Homo sapiens: one gene and its partners. The protein of the gene in region 2 purifies or fractionates together with the protein of the main gene of each other region. This does not show direct contact. Each region holds a gene or a part of one and is shown on either strand. Other genes may lie near its edges.

Region 1 (4,625 bases), on a different chromosome or scaffold from region 2:
AAGGGATGTCCTATTGATTGCAAGAATAAAACAAGAGACGATAGGTGGTACCTTGATCTTACCTAAAGAAGAAACATATTCTTTTGACTAAAATGAGGTCATGTTTCAACAATACCTGTCTTTGGTCTGAAGGCTAAGCCAGTCAGGACAATGAGGTGTATGCAACTCAGGAAGAGATGTCTGACTGTTAATAAGAATGTATTGTGAGATGAAATGTAATGTCGGTATCTTAGCAAGGCAACATGATCTATCTTCTTCAAGAAGTTTTTTTTTTTTTTTGGTTATTTTTCTCTTAACAAAGTTGGAAGAAATTGTATATGAAAAGGTACTTTCTCAACTTCTGTAAAGGATATAGTTATAATATTATTCATGTTTAAATGGAAACTTTTAAATACACAAGCTTATATCTGAGAAACTTTTATATACGAGCTTATATTTGAGAAAAATAAGATTAAACAAATGGATCTGTGGTACAAATGTATTAATCAAAATTAATTTTCTTTCTTTTCTAAAGGTAAAGACACCTTTGAAAAGCGTTACGTATTTACAACTATTCTGCAATATTTAAGAAGAAATCCCAAATGTAGACAATACATCATTATTAAACAAATATGAGTAGAGTTATTGAACAACAGAAAAACATGTTTTTTTTAATTTTAATTTTAGATTTGGGGGTACATGTGAAGGTTTGTTACATAGGTAAACATGTGTAACAAGGGTTTGTTGATCATATTATCTTACCACCCAGGTGTTAAGCCCAGTGCCCAATAGTTATCCTTTCTGCTCCTCTTCTTCCTCCCACCCTCCCCCTTGAGTAGACCCCAATCATGTTGAGACATGATTATTTCCAAAATGAACATTACTCTTTTCCACTAAGGATACTTACAAATTTGAAGTAATAGGGAATAAGATCAACAAATGGGTATACTCATTTATTTATTCATGCCATTGCATTTTTAAAAATCATAATTGGGTACCTAATTGTAGACTAAAACTAAGTTAATGTGACTGCATATGAAAATTATTATAGTCATATTTAAAAGAGCATTTAATCCTGTTGTCCAATTTATGAATGATTTCCACTATATATATTCTTTATTGAGAGAAAATCTTTGAAATCACATTTTGGAATATATTTAAGTTTTTTTTAATGTTTCACAAAATGGAGAAATACAAATTCAGTTAAAAAGTAAAGACAAAAAGAAAAATAATAAATTTCCACTTTCAATATAGTAAATTCTCTTTGAGTACAAATGAATTCAGAATACTTATTTATTTTCTAATAGTGTTTTAAACTTGTATAATACCCCATTATATAAATATGTAGTTACTACCAAAAATATTTCATTTGCCTAGTATGAGAGACACAACAGCAAAAGCACATATGATTTGCTCTGCAAACTAGAAATATGTTGCATAATTCTTTCAGGGAAATATGTTGTTGTTATTGTTTCTTCATAGAATCTCAATTTAGGCTTTTCCTGCAAGACCAGTCTTACTTTTTTTTTTTACAGGATGTATGGCTATTATTTAATAGTTTTGATTTCCATTTAGTTACTAGTCAGTTTCATCAATTGGTTTAGTCAGGGAGCTCAGTCAAAATATGTGGGCTTGTATAGAGATAGCCTAAATAGAAAGGATGGAGAGAAAGAGAGATGGAGAGAGTGAGACTGACTCTACATTTTAATATCACTCAATTTAGAACAGAGCAATACATAATACATACTTTCTAACTTGGCCTTGTAATTATGCCAGGGGAAAAAGGGAGGCCATCTGATCATTTATGAAGAGGAAAATATAGATTTAAAATTGTGAGGGCAGATTATAGAAGACAAACAGAAAAAAAACAGCATATACATTTGGAAGATGTAAGCTTACTTGTTGTGCTGAATGGCAGAATCTCCTGAATCCTTCATTCTCCTTTCTCTAAAATAGAGGGTTCATATGTACTTGGTGAGATTGACATGTTATTCAAATGAGAGAGGACTGAAGAGCCAGAACAGAGATTCAATACTATTGCAAGTATAATACTTTTCAAAATTGAGTGAGTGAGGTAAAGACACTCATTCTGTGCCAGTGGAACTCACATATGGAAATTAGTCCAAAAACCAACTTTTAAAAACTCAAATTATTTTTAGAGATATTTTCATTTTTTGTCTTATTTACTGTTTAAATAATATTTTATCCCAAAAAACTAATAAGTTTTAAAAATCTCCATCCAAAATAAAATAACTGGAGAATGTTCCCAAGGCCTATAGACTATACAATTTGTGATTGCTCTGTTGCAATTTCATTTCTATGTCTCTAGACAATGGTTTGTGACACAGGTTAAATTTGGGAATAGCTATCCATGTGAAAATGTATAGCAACTCCACAGAAGAAAATAAAAAGCATCCCTTGACATTTTTCTGTTTGATTAGCTAATTTTCCCTACTCTCCCCCCTCCTCTGCCAAAACCAAAAGAAAAACCTTCTTATTTGACCTTTCTATGCATCAAGATAGTTTTGGTCATTATTCTTGGATTATATGGGGGAAGCCAGGTTTCTTGAAGAAATTTAAGAAAAGTTTTAAAACTATCTAAGGTAGACATAGATATTTTCTCATAGGAGTTTGGCTGAGCATATATTCTGATTAATTCATAATGGAACTCAGTCTTTGGCTTTATTTTCTTTAGCATTCTGCTACTAAATGTATTGCTTCAAATTATAAGCATTGGGTATACCATAATTATATTCATTTCAAAAGCAGATAATTTTGACACGTGTTTCTGCCACACAGTCAGATTCTGTTAAAACAAAATACTTGTTATATCGAAATGTATTAGAATATTATATGCTATGAGTCAAAAAATAACTTAAAATTTTTTTCATTTCACTTTTTTTTTTGTCCAGATAAATAGACATGTTTATCTGGAGTTTTCAAAAGCAAAAGTTTCATTCATAAAAACCATCACCAATTTTCAAGCCAGAGTGGTATTTTTAATGGCGTTTGTGCCAAGGAAAGCCATTTTAAAGCAGATATACAGACACACATAAACACACACAGAGAGAGATTAAAAACGGGGTTGGGGGCAATTGTATAGTTGGGTTCCACTTACTACTAACTTAGTTTGACGAATGATATCATGTTGGCACAGGCATGTTTAACTTTTAGGATTAATTCTACTTTCTTTGAATGCATCTATCTAGAATGAAGACAAGTGTTTCCTTTGTACAAGAATTGTTTTGACAGACAGCCACAGAAGATAGAGAAATCTATCAGTATGTTTGATTGGTACTTTTTACTACACAGAATTCCTATAACCAGGAAAATGCTGAAGGAAAGGGAGGGAGAGTTGCACATTTCACATTAAGATACAAAAATTAATGGCAGAAACATAAAAAACTGGATCCATATATAGAATGGAGAAAAGACATAAAGTTCCCTCAACATCATAATCCTTGTAGAAGACCAAGTCCTGTTCAGTTCAGGTGACTTTAAATGGAGCTGATTTTTATGGTATCCCCTGGGCTGAGAAAAGAAATTGACAAGGTAACTGGCAAGAAACTAATGTCCTGGATCCAATAGATTTGCAAACTAAGTATTTCTGCATACCTCCACCTTGAAAAACAAGCAGCATTTAGAAAGTGTCATCTAAGTCCTAAGAATACATTAACCATATCACTCATCTAGCACCCTTTCTAAGAAAATTTCCTTTACCTTCACTTACATTTTTAAAAAATCACTTCCATATTTGTAATTCTAGCACAGTTAATATTTAATTTTTCTGCAATATTCTCATGTCTCTCTCCATTCTTAGAGGTCTAATTATATTCAGATTCACACTGGTGGCACTTTCCTTAAATTATTTTTATACTGTAAATATTTTCATATAATGTTTTTAATAATGAGATAAAAACATTTTAAGAAATTATTTTGTCTAAAGATATTTTAACCTATTCAAGAAATACTGATTCAGATTCTGATGTATGGCAGAATCCATCCATCCATCCATCCATCCATCCATCCATCCATTCATCTTTTTCCTAAATTTATCTTCAGCTTTCTCTTAACTCCATTTTTCCTCCTGAATTCTGTTTTCTGCAATTCACATTCTTTCTTATTGTTTTAGCACATTTAAATTCTTTCTTTACCTTTTCCATTTTCTCTTTTCTCTCTCACTCAGTTTAAATTTGAGCTTGAGAAGAGAGAAAGAGAACAAATTCAAAGATTAGCAACCTCTTCAAAACAAAACTTTAATGTTATTTGTGGCATATGAAGAGACATAAATCGCAGTTCATTCTTCTTTGAGGGGAGATTAAAATTTTGATATACATTTAATTGCCATTGTTTGATGGTTTTCTATACAGATACATTAAAATGACTATAACAGCATGAACTTTAATTATTTGGAAATGTGTCTCCACATTGTATCATACTCGAGAATTTAACACAGACTAGCATTAGGCCTCTCAATCCCTTTTCAGAAAATTTGACACTTTAAGATATACTTCCTTTTAAGTTTTAATCCTTATCAAGCAATACTTTGATATGATATGACATTGTTATATGACAAATTAGTTGATTCTAAGTGAATCTGATTTATCTTCCAATTTTGGCTGTTAAGAGTTACAAAGATGTTTCCT
Region 2 (6,399 bases):
CAAGGGTCTCCCCCTAAAAGTATGGAATAGTTTATAGTCCATAACCATCCCCAAGTCGGTTCCTGCGTTAGTTCGGGTTAGGGCTTCCCCGCCAGCACCCCCACCTTGTGTCCTGGACTTTCAGGATCCCTAGTGGGGATGTGTATCCCAGAGGCAAATTCACTCTGTCACACTCAGGGGACTCGCAGCCCTTCGACTGACTCAGTGTAGGCTGCAGTCTCCTGCTTCCTTCAAAACATCAATAGATTCCTATGGTTTTCCTGTTCAGTTATTGCGTTGCTTCTCGAAAAATAGTTCACAACGTGAATCTGTACACACTATTTTGTCCTTCCAAGTGGAAGAGGTATGCTAGCAGTTCCTCTAATCCACCATTTTGGAAAAGCATTCCTAATTTTTCAAGGATAGAAACATTTTTATGGCCTGGTCATCCTAAATAGCACAAAACGTCTTTGTCCATTGCAAACTATAACATACTCAATATTTCAACTTAAATATTTTCAATATGACTTTCACTTCATTGTTTTCAACATCAAACCACGAGTGTTCATTAGTAGGTTCCCAAGTTAGACAATCCAATAGAAAAATGGACGAACGTCTTGAAGGGTCATATCACAAATAAGGATATCTAAATGGCCAATAAACATCTGAAAAGGTGCTCAGCTTCATTAGTCATCCATGCAACACAAATCAAACCCCATATGTCATCACTATATTCTCCCTAGAATATCTTTTTAAAGGCATAAAATACTAGATGTGGACAAGAATGTAAAGCAACAAGAATGCTCACACATTGTGGATGAGAGTATAAATTGGTACAACCAATTTGGAAAACAATCAGATGCTATGTATTTACTAAAACTGAATGTATGCATAGCCTGTGCCCTAGGAATTTCTCTCCTAGGTATATAACCCCCACAGAAATCCCTGCACCACAACCCTATTTATAAAAGTGAAAACTGGAAACTACAAATAAGACCATCTTCACTTACAATATTCAAATAAATTGTAATATCTTTCCCAATGTATTACAGTATGCCATTGAGAAGGATAAACTACAATTACATGAAACAGATTAATAAACTTCACAAAAGTAATGTAGTGGGGAAGACGCCAGACACAAAGGAATACCTACAATTCCATTTATATAAAGTTCAAAAATAGATGTCAGCGCCTTCCTATTAAAAGTCAGGCTAGGAATTATTTTGTGTGGAGTAGTGACTGGTAGTGCCTGGGATGTTGTAACATTCTTTTGTGGGGGCAGGATGCTGGTTACACAGGTGTGTTAAATTTGTGCAGTTCATGAGGATGTTTACTCATGATTTGTACATTTTTTAATTGTATGTTATACTTCAAAAAGTTCTTAAGAGACTTTTAAGAAGCGACAAATTAATAAAAAGAAAAATACTCAATACAAGGAATTAGAGTATTTCTGTAAGAGAGACAATAAAGAGAAATACAGCAGACACAGGAACACTGATAGGCTAAAGCCATTGTTTTAATCGAATGGTGCAACTGAGAGGGATCTGGGTTCCCAGAGGAAATCAGCAACAGCTTTCAGGTACTCACAACTATTTCCCAGTCAGTATAGGTAAATATTTTGGGTTTACACAGCACAAATGTATAGTATCACACAAAATACGATATTGTTCGTTTTTTAGACATTTTGGCCGGCAAGTACCTTGCAGTCGCCAACATGAAGCAAAGATTTTTTGTATGTAGACATTGGGTCCACTTCTACCTGCCAAGAGAAACAAAGGTTAATGCACAGTTAGTGTCCTGAAGTGTCATGTTGTCATGGATAAAATTAGACCTCAGACCATAGTTTTCACTTTTTAATAATGAATTAGACGCGATCAAAGATACTCAAGACATTTTATAGCTGGATGCCCCTTTTCAGTTGCTCTTACCTTGTTTTCCAGGGGCCCTATTATAAGCCATTATATGAATCCACAATTAGTTACATGAATTACTGATCAACTGTGTGGAGTTAACAGGACCCAGCATATTCAGCTTGAGACTATTGGCTTCAGAAAGAATATTCAGACATCGAAGTCATCCCAGGAGCCTGCAGAGGTCCCATACCAGGAGGCATGCAGGGTCTGGAATAGCTACCTGAGGCAGTTTGTGATTATCAAAGTGTCAGCATAAAGAAAGAAGGATCACTGAAGTGGAATTTTAGAAGCCTGCACTTCTACCCCTGTATTCCCCAAAAACATTCTGCATGACTTTTTGTCAAGTGCTTAATCACAAGGTACTTAAGAAGTACCCATTCTCCCATGGGTACTTTGCACCCATGGGAGAATGAGTGTGAAATGGTTTGAAATACCTGAGACAAATATGGAAATTTATTGCTAGTAATTTTTCTACACCTTAAGAACTGGGAGCCTCTGGAAACCAGAGGGTGGAGGAGGGGTAATAGGAAGGCAGTTTAAGAGGGTAAGGGTGGCCCTGAGTTGCCCCTACTGTATCACCTGCTCTTGCATGCTAAGTCTTATCAGTTTCTCCACCCAGGTGCCCCCATGAGTCCATGGATTGAACCTTTGTGGTGTGAAAATAATCAATGTGGTATGGTCAAGGGCCGTTAGCAGGCAAACTTGCCCACCATGTGCTCCCTAGACCTCAGGCACTTTTCTGGGGACAAAGGAGTCCAGTAGAGACACACTGCAAAGTGTCGGAGGTCCCACCATGCAGGACATCAGCCATCATCTCAACATGGTCCTCATTCGTATCTGTCTTCGTTTTATTTATTTTTTTTAATTTTTATTTTTGAGATGAAGTTTCACGCTTGTTGCCCAGGCTGGAGTGCAATGGCACCATCTCAGCTCACTGCAATCTCCGCCTCCTGGGTTCAAGTGATCCTCTTTTCTCAGCTTCCCGAGTAGCTGGGACAGGCATGCGCCACCATGCCCGGCTAATTTTGTATTTTTAGTAGAGACGGGTTTTCACCATGTTGGCTAGACTGATCTCGAACTCCTGACCTCAGGTGATCCACTCGACTCAGCCTCCCAAAGTGCTTAGATTGCAGGCGTGAGCCACCGCGCCCAGCCTCATATCTGTCTTTTAAACACTTCACACTTGGTCCTTGAGTGATACGCTTTATATATGAAGGTTTGAGGCAAAGGGTAGGGGCTCTCTGCTGACCCCAGAAAACCACAAGCAAAACAGTTTTGAGAACCTCCACTTTAGTGACTGAAGTAGACTCTTCTCATTATCACCAAGTTGCTGGCTTCTGTCCACAGAATGTAAATTCTGACCTCTCAAACTGATGTTTCATAGGACCTCATCATGCTATAAGTTAGTGTAATACATCTTAACCAGCTGTGTCTGTGGATTCTGCTCAGCATAAAATTTACCTTGGCTTCTAAATGAGTGAAAAATAACATGGGTGGCTGACTGTAGAAGGCAAGTTCTAAGAGCCCTCAAAGAACAGTCTCCTTCTCATCCCCAAGTCCTCGCTATTCTTTGAAAGTCTCATCTTTTTGCTCTGCCCTACTTCTGCCAGTACCAACAGTCCAGCCTTCCCCTCAAACTTCACCAGCTCCTCAAACCAAAATCCATAACCAGTTTCTTTTCTGAAGAGAGCTACCTCCTGTTCTGTGTCCTTTGGATCTTTTCTCCATTCTCTGGACCAGCCCAGCATGTCCATCTCTGCTCACTTTCCTCCCTGTTGCAGCTTCCTTTGTCCAAGTCCTGCCTTTTTCTCACTCTTGTAGAACCTCACACCTTTTTTCCCTTTACTATTCCTAATTCTACAAGGTGGGGACTCCATTTTACCTGGTGGAACATAGAAGAGTAAGTTAAGGACCACGAGGGCCAAGAGGACGCTCCTTGTGGCCATACCAATCAGCAAAGAAGCAGCTGTGACTCATCGGAGAGTCACTCTCTCCGCAGCTTTGAAGAGACGGGGAGCTGCATGGCTAGTGAACCTTTTGGAACAAGAACATCTGCCTGCTCCACTGAGCAATCCAATCAGCAAAATGTCTGTTTGAACATGACATCCCTTCATTAAAGCACACTTCCTGGGTGCCACATGCATGCTAGCAACTGCATGAACACTGTGTAGGCAGCCCTATTCTAGGCCCTGGTAGGGTGCTGTGTAGGTGTCTGTGTATCTTCATTGTACATCCACTAAAATGCCTATAGTGTGCAGAGAACCATAAGGCTGCCTTACATAGTTGACAAAGAGTTTGTTTTTTTTTTCAACCTTACACACACACGAAGTCCAGGTAGGCATGATTCTCTCCATTTTAAAAACAAAAATAAAGAGTCTCAGGTAGAAGAAATGACTTTCTCAAGCTCACATAGATCCTAAATGGTAGCAACATGATTTATAAGCAGGCTTCCCTGACTCCTATATACAGAAGTACTAAAGTATGGCCTTGCCCAGTTCTGGTATAGCTGTAATGTCTTTAGGAAAATAAGAGCTCCTCAAAAACAGCATGGAAAAAGCAAGTCCCCATAACACCCGCAACATGACCCAGGGAAAAACACTGAGTCTATGGCTCCCCATTGAGCATATGCTGTGTGCCGGGTAATGGGGGGGCATACAAAGAATTTATGACAAAAGTCTTGCTTGGAGGGACTAAAGTCGACAGTGTTTGACAGTTTTTGAAGTGTTTTAAGTTTTTCAGCAACTTTATCTGATACTGTATGAAGAACACAAAACCCAGAATCAGAAAGTCTTTCTGGTCTGGACTCTGCATGCAGTAGCTTGACAAGCTTTTAATAAAGCACGTACTTTACCTCACTGACCATCAGTTTTCTCACTTGGAAAGAAGGTTGTACACCTGGCCAGGTGCAGTTGCTCATGCCTATAATTCTAACGTTTTGGGAGGCTGAGGAAGGTGGATTGCTTGAGCTCAGCAGCTCAAGACCAGCCTGGGCAACATGGCAAAACCCCATCTCTACAAAAAATGCAAAAATTAGCCAGGCATGATAGTGAGCGCCTGTACTCCTAGCTACTCAGGAGGCTGAGGTGGGAGAATCACCTGAACCCAGGAGATCAAGGCTGCAGTGAGCCATGATTGCACCACTGCACTCCAGCCTGGGTGACACAGTGAGACTCTGTCTTAAACAACAACAACAACAAAAAATAGGTTGTACTCCATCATTCCCACCTATCAGGAAGGCTTGTCGCAAGGCCAAATGAAGTAACTCTTAAGGCCAGTCCTTTATAGAACATATAGAACATATATTTAAGGAACTATTAGACTCATGTAACAGAAGAAGACATTTAAAACTATAGATATTGGCCAGGTGTGGTGGCATGTGCCTGTAATCGCAGCACTTTGGGAGGCCGAGATGAGAAGATCGCTTGAGGCCAGGCATTCAAGATCATCATGGGCAACATAGTGAGACCCCTTTCTCTATTTAAAGAAATAAAACTAGACATGTTGCTTCTCCAGCTAGAGAGTGAAATAGCCAGGACTAGGAACACATGCTTCCCTCTCTCTGTCCCTGTTTTATTCACAAGAATGCATCAAATGTATGCCACTTCAATGGACTCTTGTTTTCCAACTTCAGGATGTTTGCGATGTGGTTGAGATTGCACATCTGTGAAAGACTCATAAAGAACTGCAGAGCAGAAAATCAGTAAATAGAGAAAGAATAGAGGACCTGAGTTTTGAGGAGCACAAAGAGAAAAGATTAAGCAAGCACAAATGCATTAAGGGACTCTCCTGAGACCCACTTTCCAACCTGCAGCATTAGGCACAGCCTGATTTGCACTCTCTCAGCTGCCATGGTCCTGATCTTCTGTTCTCCAAGAAACTCCCTCTGTCTCCATCTCAACCCTTCCCACTGTGCCGTCCAGAACCACAGTTCTACTATAAACATACCTTCTACTTTATGTCTTCCCCAAGAACACTCTTCCATCTCTGTGTCTTGGCAAAATGCTAGGTCCTTCTCTAAGGACACTGCTTCCTGGCAGCCTTGGTGACTGGAAGCTGTTCATTGACCCAGGCTCCACACACCAGAGGACAAGTAAGCCCCACTTCACAATCTCCTGAACGATACCTGAGATGATCCTGACACCGCCTTTCCCTCACCCTGTCCACATTGAATTGCTCGTCAAACGTTCCCAGTTCTGCCTTCAGCATGCGTTTCACACTCGCCCATTTCCATCTCCACTGCTGCCACTGCGTCCATGCCATCACCTCTGTCACCAAACTCAGTAAATGGCCTCTTAAATGGCTCCCATATCATTTTTAGATATTTACCATTTATTCTCCACTTGGTAACCAAAATGACCTTTTATAAAACTGAAATTGATTTATGCATTTGCCCTGTGGAAAATCCTTCAGGATGGCTTCCCCCTGGCCCCACTCTTCACAGGTCAGGACTATTACAATTCAAGGTGAGTTTTAGGTAGGGACATAGCCAAACCATATCAGCATCCTC
Region 3 (4,625 bases), about 82 Mb from region 2:
GATAAATAACAAAGTTTCTGCACTGTTTATAAGATTATGAGAATCAAAATGAAATAACTGAAAAATAAGTATATTGAAGTACTTCAAAGTACCAAACTACTGTGAGATGATGGTGTTGATTTTCATCAGTGTATTCAAGGTACACATCATAAAATATTATAGTGGGAAAGTCACTAAGATTTTAGAGATCTCACACTGGAAAAGAAAGAGAAATTTAAGTGGCGAGGTACTATCCTAACGTAGGATCATAATGAGATTATCCTAGGAAGAGGGAGGTGTTGAAAATTAATCTGGGTAAACCTAGAACAAAAGCCACTGAAAGAAATGAGGACAGGGGAGTCCTAAACATTAACAATCATCTGGCAAGCTCTTCCTGAAACACCAATTTCAGCTCACTGGTATTTACTTAGCTATTCGCAACCCATTCTAATTCAGCAGGTCTAGAGTGGGACCTATAATGTGCATTTTGACCTAACTCCTCACACTCTTCTGTTATAGTTTTCCCCCTTGGCTATTCACTTTTACTGGTCTATGCCAATCTACACATACACCTAAAATAACCCGACCAACTGTTCCAATTCAGTTGTCCTTATTGTTTTCATCTACTAATGACTGGCAAACACTTCCATTATGATATTTTCCCATAAATAATATCATTAGACATTTGTTTACCTCAGTGATATTTGAGTAGCAACTCGAATTACTCTTGGCTGAGTTCCTAAGTCATTTTCTCGTCCACTTACTGCATCCACTAAGAAAATGCGCCGAGTTAGAAGCCACTTTCCAGAGTTGCTGTCTTTTATTATAAAAAGAAAAAAGTTTACTGCACAAATTTAAAACATGAAATTATTGTTTTAGATAAGATGGCTGCAAAAAGCTACTAGTATAAGAAACACCTGACAATGGCGTTCTCTAACTCATGTGAATGTCTTCTTTTGTTTTTTTTAGACAGGGTCTCACTCTGTTGACCAGGCTATAGTGCAATAGCATGATCATGGCTCACTGCATGCATTCTCAACCTCCTGGGCTCAAGTGATCCTCCCACCTCAGCCTCCAGAGTAGCTGGGACTACAAGGGTGCACCATCACACCAAGCTAAATTTTTTTTTGTAGCAACCAGTTCTAATTATGTTGCCTAGGTTGGTCTTCAATTTCTAGGCTCAAGCAATTCTCTCGTCTTGGCCTCCCAAAGTGCTGCGATTATAGGCGTGAGCCACCGTGCCTTGGACTTGAATGTCTTCTGATTGAACTTTTCATAAATTTGGAAGGCTTTCCCCTGCAAATTACCTGAAAAAGCAGAATTTTATAACATGAATAACAACAAAAGAAACTAATTTGTCCAAAAAAGCATATTCGGGACAGCTTGACGAAAAAGCCCCAATTTACGGTTCTACTAATGTTTCTCAGGATATACCCTCAGCAACAGTATAATTTCTTAACAATATGTCTGGCAATAAAATTAGCAACAGTTTCTAAGTCCACCAGCAATTTATTGTTTCATTTTTTGGCACACTGTATAGAACCACATAAGAGAGAATTCATGACCTTTCTTATAATCAGTGGTTTATTAAATTATCATGTAGGTTAACTTATTTGTTGATTTCTGCTCAGGGAAAAGAGTGGTATGTATGGATGTCTTACCTTGGTTCACAAATATCTTATTATGTTGAAGATTTAGGTTTAACACAGGCACAGCCAAAATATATTGATGTTGATTTTCATCAGTATATTCAAGGTACACATCATAAAATATAGGAGTGGGAAAGTCAATTAAGATCTTAGAGATAGGAATCTCACACTGAAAAGTAAAATTAAAAATAAAAGCACATAAAACAGCAACTTAAAGTACTAAAAAGTAAAAAATAAAATAAAAGATCACAATTGAAAATTAGCAAGCATATTTATTATCTTCAGAGTGTTTTTCTAGTTTTGCAAAATGTCTTTATACTACCTTGTTTATATGCATTTTCATTTGTCTTCCAAAACATGAATACTATGATTATTTTATAAGGACCAAAACCACTAACAGTAAAGTACTGCTTTGAGAATTTTGAGAACTTCTTGAGCTTCAACTCAGATGAAGGAGGTATACCTTCATTCTCAATATTAAGGGTACATCAGTGAAAAGGTTTAAAACTACTGTCCTACGGGATAAATTCCCAATTTTTTCTCCTGCTGTACAATGATGTATATGATCTGGCTTCCATTAACCAAGCCAGGCTTATCTCTCATTACTCCCTATCAGTCTATGGTGGTCCATTCATACTAATCTACTTGTAGTTTCTAAATATGCCATACTACTGTATGTCTCTCTGTCATTACAAATGTGATTTCTGTCTGATATTTCCTTCCCCACTGTGTTCTTCTGGAAAACTCATATTCATTATACAAATCCAAGTATCACTTACTTTGTGAAGCCTTTCTATACTTCCCCAGGAATCAGTACCTTGTACATACCTATAGAATGACACTTATCACATTCTTTGCAATTCTTTGTCTATATAACTGTTTTGCCCACTAGTCTATGAAGGACTTGAGAGTTAGCCAGGTTCAAAGAAATAAAAATGCTTTTTAAACCTGATGATAGAACATTGGCTCCACAGTTTATGTGACACAAGTCTTTGAGTAAATTACCTAATTACACGGCATAATTTCCTCATCTGTGAAGCACAGATACTATGTATCTCATATAGTTATTTTATGAATCAAATGGGATAATAACGATAAAATGCTGAGCACACAGATAGGCATTACATAAGTGTTGATCTTTCTGGCCTATGTTAGAAGCACAATAACATTTATTTTAACAACAACAGCAACAACAACGTGTAAATCATTTCTGACAAAAGAAGTAAATTCATGTTCATGGTAGAAAATTTGGAAATTATAAAAAAGAAAAAAATAATTTCTAACCCCACTATCCAGAGGTAACCACTGTTAGTAGATTCTTCCAATCTACTTTCCATAATGGTATTTTTTGTTATGGTTTTGTTCTATGGTTGTGCGTGGAACTTTATCAAGATGTACTTTTACAGACTAATGAATTGATATGGTTTGGCTGTGTCCCCACCCAAATCTCATCTTGAACTGTAGTTCCCATAATCCCCATGTGTCATGGGAAGGACCCGGAGGGAGGTAATTGAATCATAGGGGCAGTTACCCTCATGCTGTTCTCATGATAGTGAGTGAGTTCTCATGAGATTGATGGTTTTATGAGGGGCTTCTCCCCCTTTTGCTCAGTACTTCTCTTCCTGTCACCACGTGAAAAAGGACATGTTTGCTTCCCTTCCACCATGATTGTAAGTTTCCTGAGGCCTCCTCAGCCATAGTGAACTGTGAGTCAATTAAACCTATTTCCTTTGTAAATTACCCAGTCTCGGATGTGTTTTTATTAGCAGCGTGAGAACGGACTAATACATGCATGTTTTTCAAGTATTGAATGGCTCATAATATTCCTTAGTAAAATAATGTAATTTCAAAATAGGTATCAAAGTAAGGAAAGTCAGAGAAGGAAGGAGAAAGAAAAGAATGGAAGAAGATGAAGGAATTATTTTTATTTGTTATGAGCGGGTAGAAGAAGGGAGTAACTTTTTATTAGTCATTTAAAAAAAGTAGTATTTTTACTTTATTTCAAAATGCTCAGAAGTAAGCATTACTTTTTAAGACCTATAAGCCTAGAAGCAGATAAACAATTTATTATGAAGATGTAATATTATATGATGTTTAAGACTCTAGGCCGGACGAGGTGGCTCACACCTGTAATCCCAGCACTTTGGGAGGCCAAGGCTGGTGGATCAGTTGAGGTCAGGAGTTTGAGACAAGCGTGGTCAACACAGCAAAACCCCATCTCTATGCAAAACACAAGAATTAGCTGGGTGTGGTGGTACATGCCTGTTGTCCCAGCTACTCAGGTGGTTGAGGCACGAGAATTGCTTGAACCCAGGAGGCAAGAGATTGCAGTGAGCTGAGATTGCACCACTGCACTCCAGCCTGGGCAACAGAGCGAGACTCTGTCTCAAAAAACAAAAAACTCTATAGATAACAAGGTGCTCTGTTTATGCCACTTAAATTAAGCTTTTATGTACCCAGGTAATAAAAAATTATATTAAATAGTGAAATTATTCTTCACTATTAAAAACATTTCCGGCCAGGCACGGTGGCTCATGCCTGTAATCTCAGCACTTCGGGAGGCTGAGGAGGGCAGATCATCTGAGGTGGGGAGTTCAAGATCAGCCTGATCAACATGGAGAAACCCTGTCTTTACTAAAAATACAAAAAATTAGCTGGGCGTGGTGGCACATGTCTGTAATTCCAGCTACTCGGGAGGCTGAGGCAGGAGAATCACTTGAACCTGGGAGGCGGAGGTTGTGGTGAACTGAGATTGCACCACTGCACTCCAGCCTGGGCAACAAGAGCAAAACTCCATCTCAAAAAAAAAAAAAAAAAAACCAAGAATAAAAAATTTCCAATCTCAAAAATTTAAGTATTATTCCAATTACTGCTGACATGATATTTTGAAAAATAAAGCTAAAATATAGACTAATATCGTTCAAACTTACATTTTGTTGGTAGGTTGTTCCAAATGAATAAGCAGCATTTAGCCTTGTCTCTGTGTCTGGACAAAGC
Region 4 (4,625 bases), on a different chromosome or scaffold from region 2:
CAATGAAGGAGACTGAAAGAAAGGGAGGAGACTAAAGGCTGAGAAATTGTGGAACCCAATACAAATCTCTAGGCCTGAACTATAAAATAGCGATCTGTCTTAAATACACTTAAATTATATTTACTAAACAATTTTAAAATGAAGCATCAGACATTAAAGTCACATGTCACTCTGCAACTTCAATCTGGTATAGAAATTACAATGTTAAGTCACCTTTCCTAACATTACAGTGACAAATGTTTCATTTCGGTCTCTTGGCATTTTAAGTAAACTACAAATATTTAAATCTATATACTAAAATCTACACTAAAGTGTGTCTAAAATCTAACCTTTATCTTCTTAAGGTTATTGCTCACCTGGAGGATCCACTGAAATTTTTTCTGACCAGCATAAAATTTACAGGTATTGAACTTTTATCAAAGAATATAGTAACTCAGACACAAATTAATTTTATGATACTGGCATTTTGTCCCTTTTCCTTTCTTTAAAAAAAACAAAGTCAAATTTACAGCACCTAAAGTGTTTTTTTTTTTTTTTTACAAAATAGTAATAAAGGCAGATATTCAACCATCACTGAACAGCTTTCTAGTCAAGAAATTCCTTGAAAATAAATACAGCTAACGCAAATGACAAATCTGAGTAAATATTGCCCAAGTCATCCCCTCTCCAGAAGCTAGATAAAAATAAACTGTAGTGCCATTTTTCTCAGCAATTCAGGCCATTAATTGAAGGAAAATCTCTAAACCTAGAGCAAAGTGATGTATTCCGAACTTTTCTGAATAAGCCTGAAATGAAAAGCATTATTAAAATACCTGTGAAGCACAACGATGGGGGAAAAAAAAAAAAAGCAACAGGTAATTTAAGGAAAAGAATCAAGCAAGAAAAGGAACTTTTTTAATTTAATAAATTTGCAGTTTTAAAAAAATTTGCTGAATACCCTATTTTCTAAATGGAATGGAAAAAACACATTGAATCAGAAAACTACTAGATGATTTATGCCAAAACTACACTCGACAATATATTACACAAGAAAAAAAAAAAAGCTCAGAACTGAGTTCTAGTTCTGGCTACACTGTGGAATTGTGTGAGTTACAGCAACTCAATTTTCTCATGTCAACAACCGGAAAAACATTACCTTGCAGGGGCATAAGAATCAGAAGAAAAATATTAAATTTTATAAACTATTGAGCACTGTGCAATCCCAAGATCATTGTGAGTGCTAAGATTATGAGAATAGATTTGAAAAACATCCATTAAAATTAGCCTAGCACAATTCCTGGCACTCAGTAAGATCAATATATATTTACTGAATGAAAAGTTATTTTACTTTAAAATCATTGCAAACACAATGACAGAATGGATCAAAACAAATTTTGAGGTATTAAGAGCCTTCTATGAAAAAGTCTAAACCAATTTTAAGCCTATTTATTTCCACAATTCCACAATGAATCAGCTCCAAATATTTCAAAACTACAAAGCCTTGCAAAGCACAATCAAATTTCTTTGTAAAAGAAATTTCATCAGCAATATACCACTAAAAGAGATAAAGTACACTAAATACCAAATGGGAGAGGAATAAATTAGAAAATCATCTGAGACCAAAAAAAAAAAAAAGTTTGAAAAATGTTTGATGTTAGACTACTGGAAACACTACAGAAACAAAAGAATAAAAGGAGATTTAAAAACGTACAACCGTGACAGGGCCGGTGGCTCACGCCTGTAATCCTAGCACTGTGGGAGGCTGAGGCGGGCAGATCACTTGAGGTCAGGAGTTTGAGACCCGTCTGACCAACATGATGAAACCCCGCCTCTACTAAAAAGACAAAAATTAGCCGGGCATGGTGTACATCTGTAGTCCCAGCTACTCTGGGACTCTGGGGCTGTAGTCCCAGCTACTCTGGGGGCTGAGGCGGAAGAATGGCTTGGGCCTGGAAGGCGGAGATTGCAGTGAGCCGAGATTCCGCCACCGCACTCCAGCCTGAGTGACAGGGCGAGACTCAGTCTCAAAAAAATAAAAATAAAAATAAAAAAAATTAAAACAGGCAACCAAGACGAGAACTAGTATTTGGTTTAGAAGCAAGATAATCCTCTACATAACCTATGTCTACGTAAGTTTACAAACCAAATTAAAAATCCACCAGTGTTTCTCTCAGTACCTTTCTTACCGGACAATTAACAAACAAAACCTAGGCAGGTGGATCCTTTGAGTCTAGGAGTTCAAGACCAGCCTAGGCAACATGGCGAAGCCCCATCTCTACAAAAAATACAAAAATTAGCCAGGCGTGGTGGCACGTGCCTGTAGTCTCAGCTACTAGGGAGGCTGAGGTGGGAGGATCAACTGAGCCCCAGTGGTTGAGGCTGCAGTGAGTTGTAATCACACACCTCCATTCCAGCCTGGGAGACAAAGCGAGCCTTTCTCAAAAAACAAACAAAACACCATCTAACATGAATGTTGGCATTAGTACAGTAAAAAGTTGTAACTAAGGCACTCTAAGTCTCTCTACATACAAATATACCGGTGGAAACGGAAAAAGAAAAAATTCACACCACCTATTGCATAGCATTTGGAAATGATTATTAACTTAGTTCCCACGAATGCCTTTACGAAAGCCAGAAATAGGAAAGGAAGGAGTATAACTGGAAACAAGAACAGGTGTGAAGCTGAGGTGGAAACAAATTAAGAACTTAGGCAAATATTCAAGTTTCTTAAAATCTTCAAAGAGCACTAAAAGAACTCAGACTTCAAATAGAATTACCCTACCCAATGAATTAGTTACAATGACAGCACAGGTCTTATTTTAAATAATGGCAAAATAACTTTTTTGAAGTAAGCTATTACTTATTTTTTAGCTCAACATTTATGTGCCAAATTAAGGAACACTAAATTTACAACCTAAACCAAAGATCAAGCAATCACTTTCATAATAGTCACTTATTTTAGGCCAGGCGCAGTGGCTTACGCCTGTAATCCCAGCACTTTGGGAGGCCAAGGTGGGCAGATCATGAGGTCAGGAGATCGAGACCATCCTGGCTAACACGGTGAAACCCTGTCTCCACTAAAAATACAAAAAAAAAAAATTAGCCGGGCATGGTGGCACACGCCTGTCGTCCCAGTTACTCGGGAGGCTGAGGCAGGAGAATGCTGTGAACCCAGGAAGCAGAGCCTGCAGTGAGCCGAGATCGCGCCACTGCACTCCAGTCTGGGCGACAGAGTGAGACTCTGTCTCAAAAAAATAAAAATAAAAATAAAAGTCACTTATTTTATTCCACTAAAGTAAAAATGAAGTAAATTAATAATCCACAAGTTCACATAAATGCAAACTGGTCAAAGTTAATACTTGCACAAAGGTCTACTTTTTTCTATTTCCTGGTTTACTACTAAAATTAGCCACAACTTAAGTACAAAGGAGCGTTGCTATAAAACCATCTTTCAGAGTCCATGTTGTACGACATTATATACGAGACTGCTTTATGACTAGACTTCTTCAGCAATGTACTGTGGGTAACCAAACACCCTTGGCTAGGATCCTCTTTTATGACAAATTCCAAATTCAAAATCCAAATATTAAAAGCAATCTTCAGCACAGTTGATTGGCTTTTCAAGGCCCTTTTAATCTCAAAATACCAAGCTAAACTGGCATAAAGTTCATCTGTATGTGTATATTTCCACTTGTTTAAACACAACAATATATATGCAATGTGGAATCCTGGACTGGATCCCAGAAGAGAAAATGGACATTAGTGGAAAAGCTGGTGAAACGCAAACAAAGTCTGGTTAGTAATGTCATACCAATGTTCATGTCTTAATTTGGACAAATGTATCATCATTATCCTAACATTAGGGGAAGCTGGATGAAGGGTATGAGATTACTCAGTTCTGTATTTCCAACTTTTCTATAAATTTAAAATTATTCCAAAATACAATTATTTAAAAACACAGCTATAACCTCTCATAATTCCCAGTCATTTGAGTAATAAAAGATTATCTAAGCCCATGAACTCATGTGAATTTCCTTTTCTAAGATGTGCTGAAAAGATGTCTTAAGTTCATATTTGCACTGGAAAAATAAATTTTTAGCAAATTTTCTATTTGCTAAGGCAAATACACACAAGCCAGTCTTACCAATTTTACTCAAAGTGAAAAATCTTGGGTGCAGGTACCAGACATCATAAATATATGGTTTGGGTTTTTTTTTTTTTTTTTTTTTTTTTAGGCAAAACTATTTTCATTTTACTATGATTGGCAAATTATGATGTATTTGATTGATAAATCTCAGATTTATCAGATTGATTCTAGTTCGTCTTCATGTGGCAGAATATGTGTTGTCAGGAGTGATTTGGTAATTCAGAAAAGCAGCTGAAGAAGCATGGAAACTTCCCTACAAGTATATGGCCACAGCTGGCTAAGGTTGGAGACAGTATTCTATCCTTGGGCCTCAGACTCACATATGTATGTACATACACATATTATTCACCCATATTTCCTTCCTTCTCCCCTCCCCCATCTGTAAACTGATATCTAAACTTTACAAATTACAGTTACAAGAAAAGTTTTGTTCCATTTGAAATACAAAAAAGATCAGGAGAAGCAATCTGCTTTTTAATTTTACTTATGCAGTAGTTTT

Evidence for each region.
Region 1: the proteins of DEFB135 (region 2) and LRP1B purify together in Homo sapiens (affinity purification with mass spectrometry; one large-scale study listed by BioGRID and IntAct). This does not show direct contact.
Region 3: the proteins of DEFB135 (region 2) and TMEM67 purify together in Homo sapiens (affinity purification with mass spectrometry; one large-scale study listed by BioGRID and IntAct). This does not show direct contact.
Region 4: the proteins of DEFB135 (region 2) and SP3 purify together in Homo sapiens (affinity purification with mass spectrometry; one large-scale study listed by BioGRID and IntAct). This does not show direct contact.

What each region holds. Positions count from the first base shown.
Region 1 is NC_000002.12:142,123,392-142,128,016, forward strand, and holds part of LRP1B (low-density lipoprotein receptor-related protein 1B precursor), read right to left. Parts: intron 1-4,625. UniProt on the Homo sapiens protein: Potential cell surface proteins that bind and internalize ligands in the process of receptor-mediated endocytosis.
Region 2 is NC_000008.11:11,979,760-11,986,158, reverse strand, and holds DEFB135 (beta-defensin 135 precursor), read right to left. Parts: upstream 3,904-6,399; 5' UTR 3,839-3,903; coding exon 3,775-3,838; intron 1,739-3,774; coding exon 1,569-1,738; downstream 1-1,568. UniProt on the Homo sapiens protein: Has antibacterial activity.
Region 3 is NC_000008.11:93,782,394-93,787,018, reverse strand, and holds part of TMEM67 (meckelin isoform 1 precursor), read right to left. Parts: intron 4,625-4,625; coding exon 4,559-4,624; intron 1,798-4,558; coding exon 1,641-1,797; intron 797-1,640; coding exon 673-796; intron 1-672. UniProt on the Homo sapiens protein: Required for ciliary structure and function. Part of the tectonic-like complex which is required for tissue-specific ciliogenesis and may regulate ciliary membrane composition.
Region 4 is NC_000002.12:173,957,749-173,962,373, forward strand, and holds part of SP3 (transcription factor Sp3), read right to left. Parts: intron 1-4,625. UniProt on the Homo sapiens protein: Transcriptional factor that can act as an activator or repressor depending on isoform and/or post-translational modifications. Binds to GT and GC boxes promoter elements. Competes with SP1 for the GC-box promoters.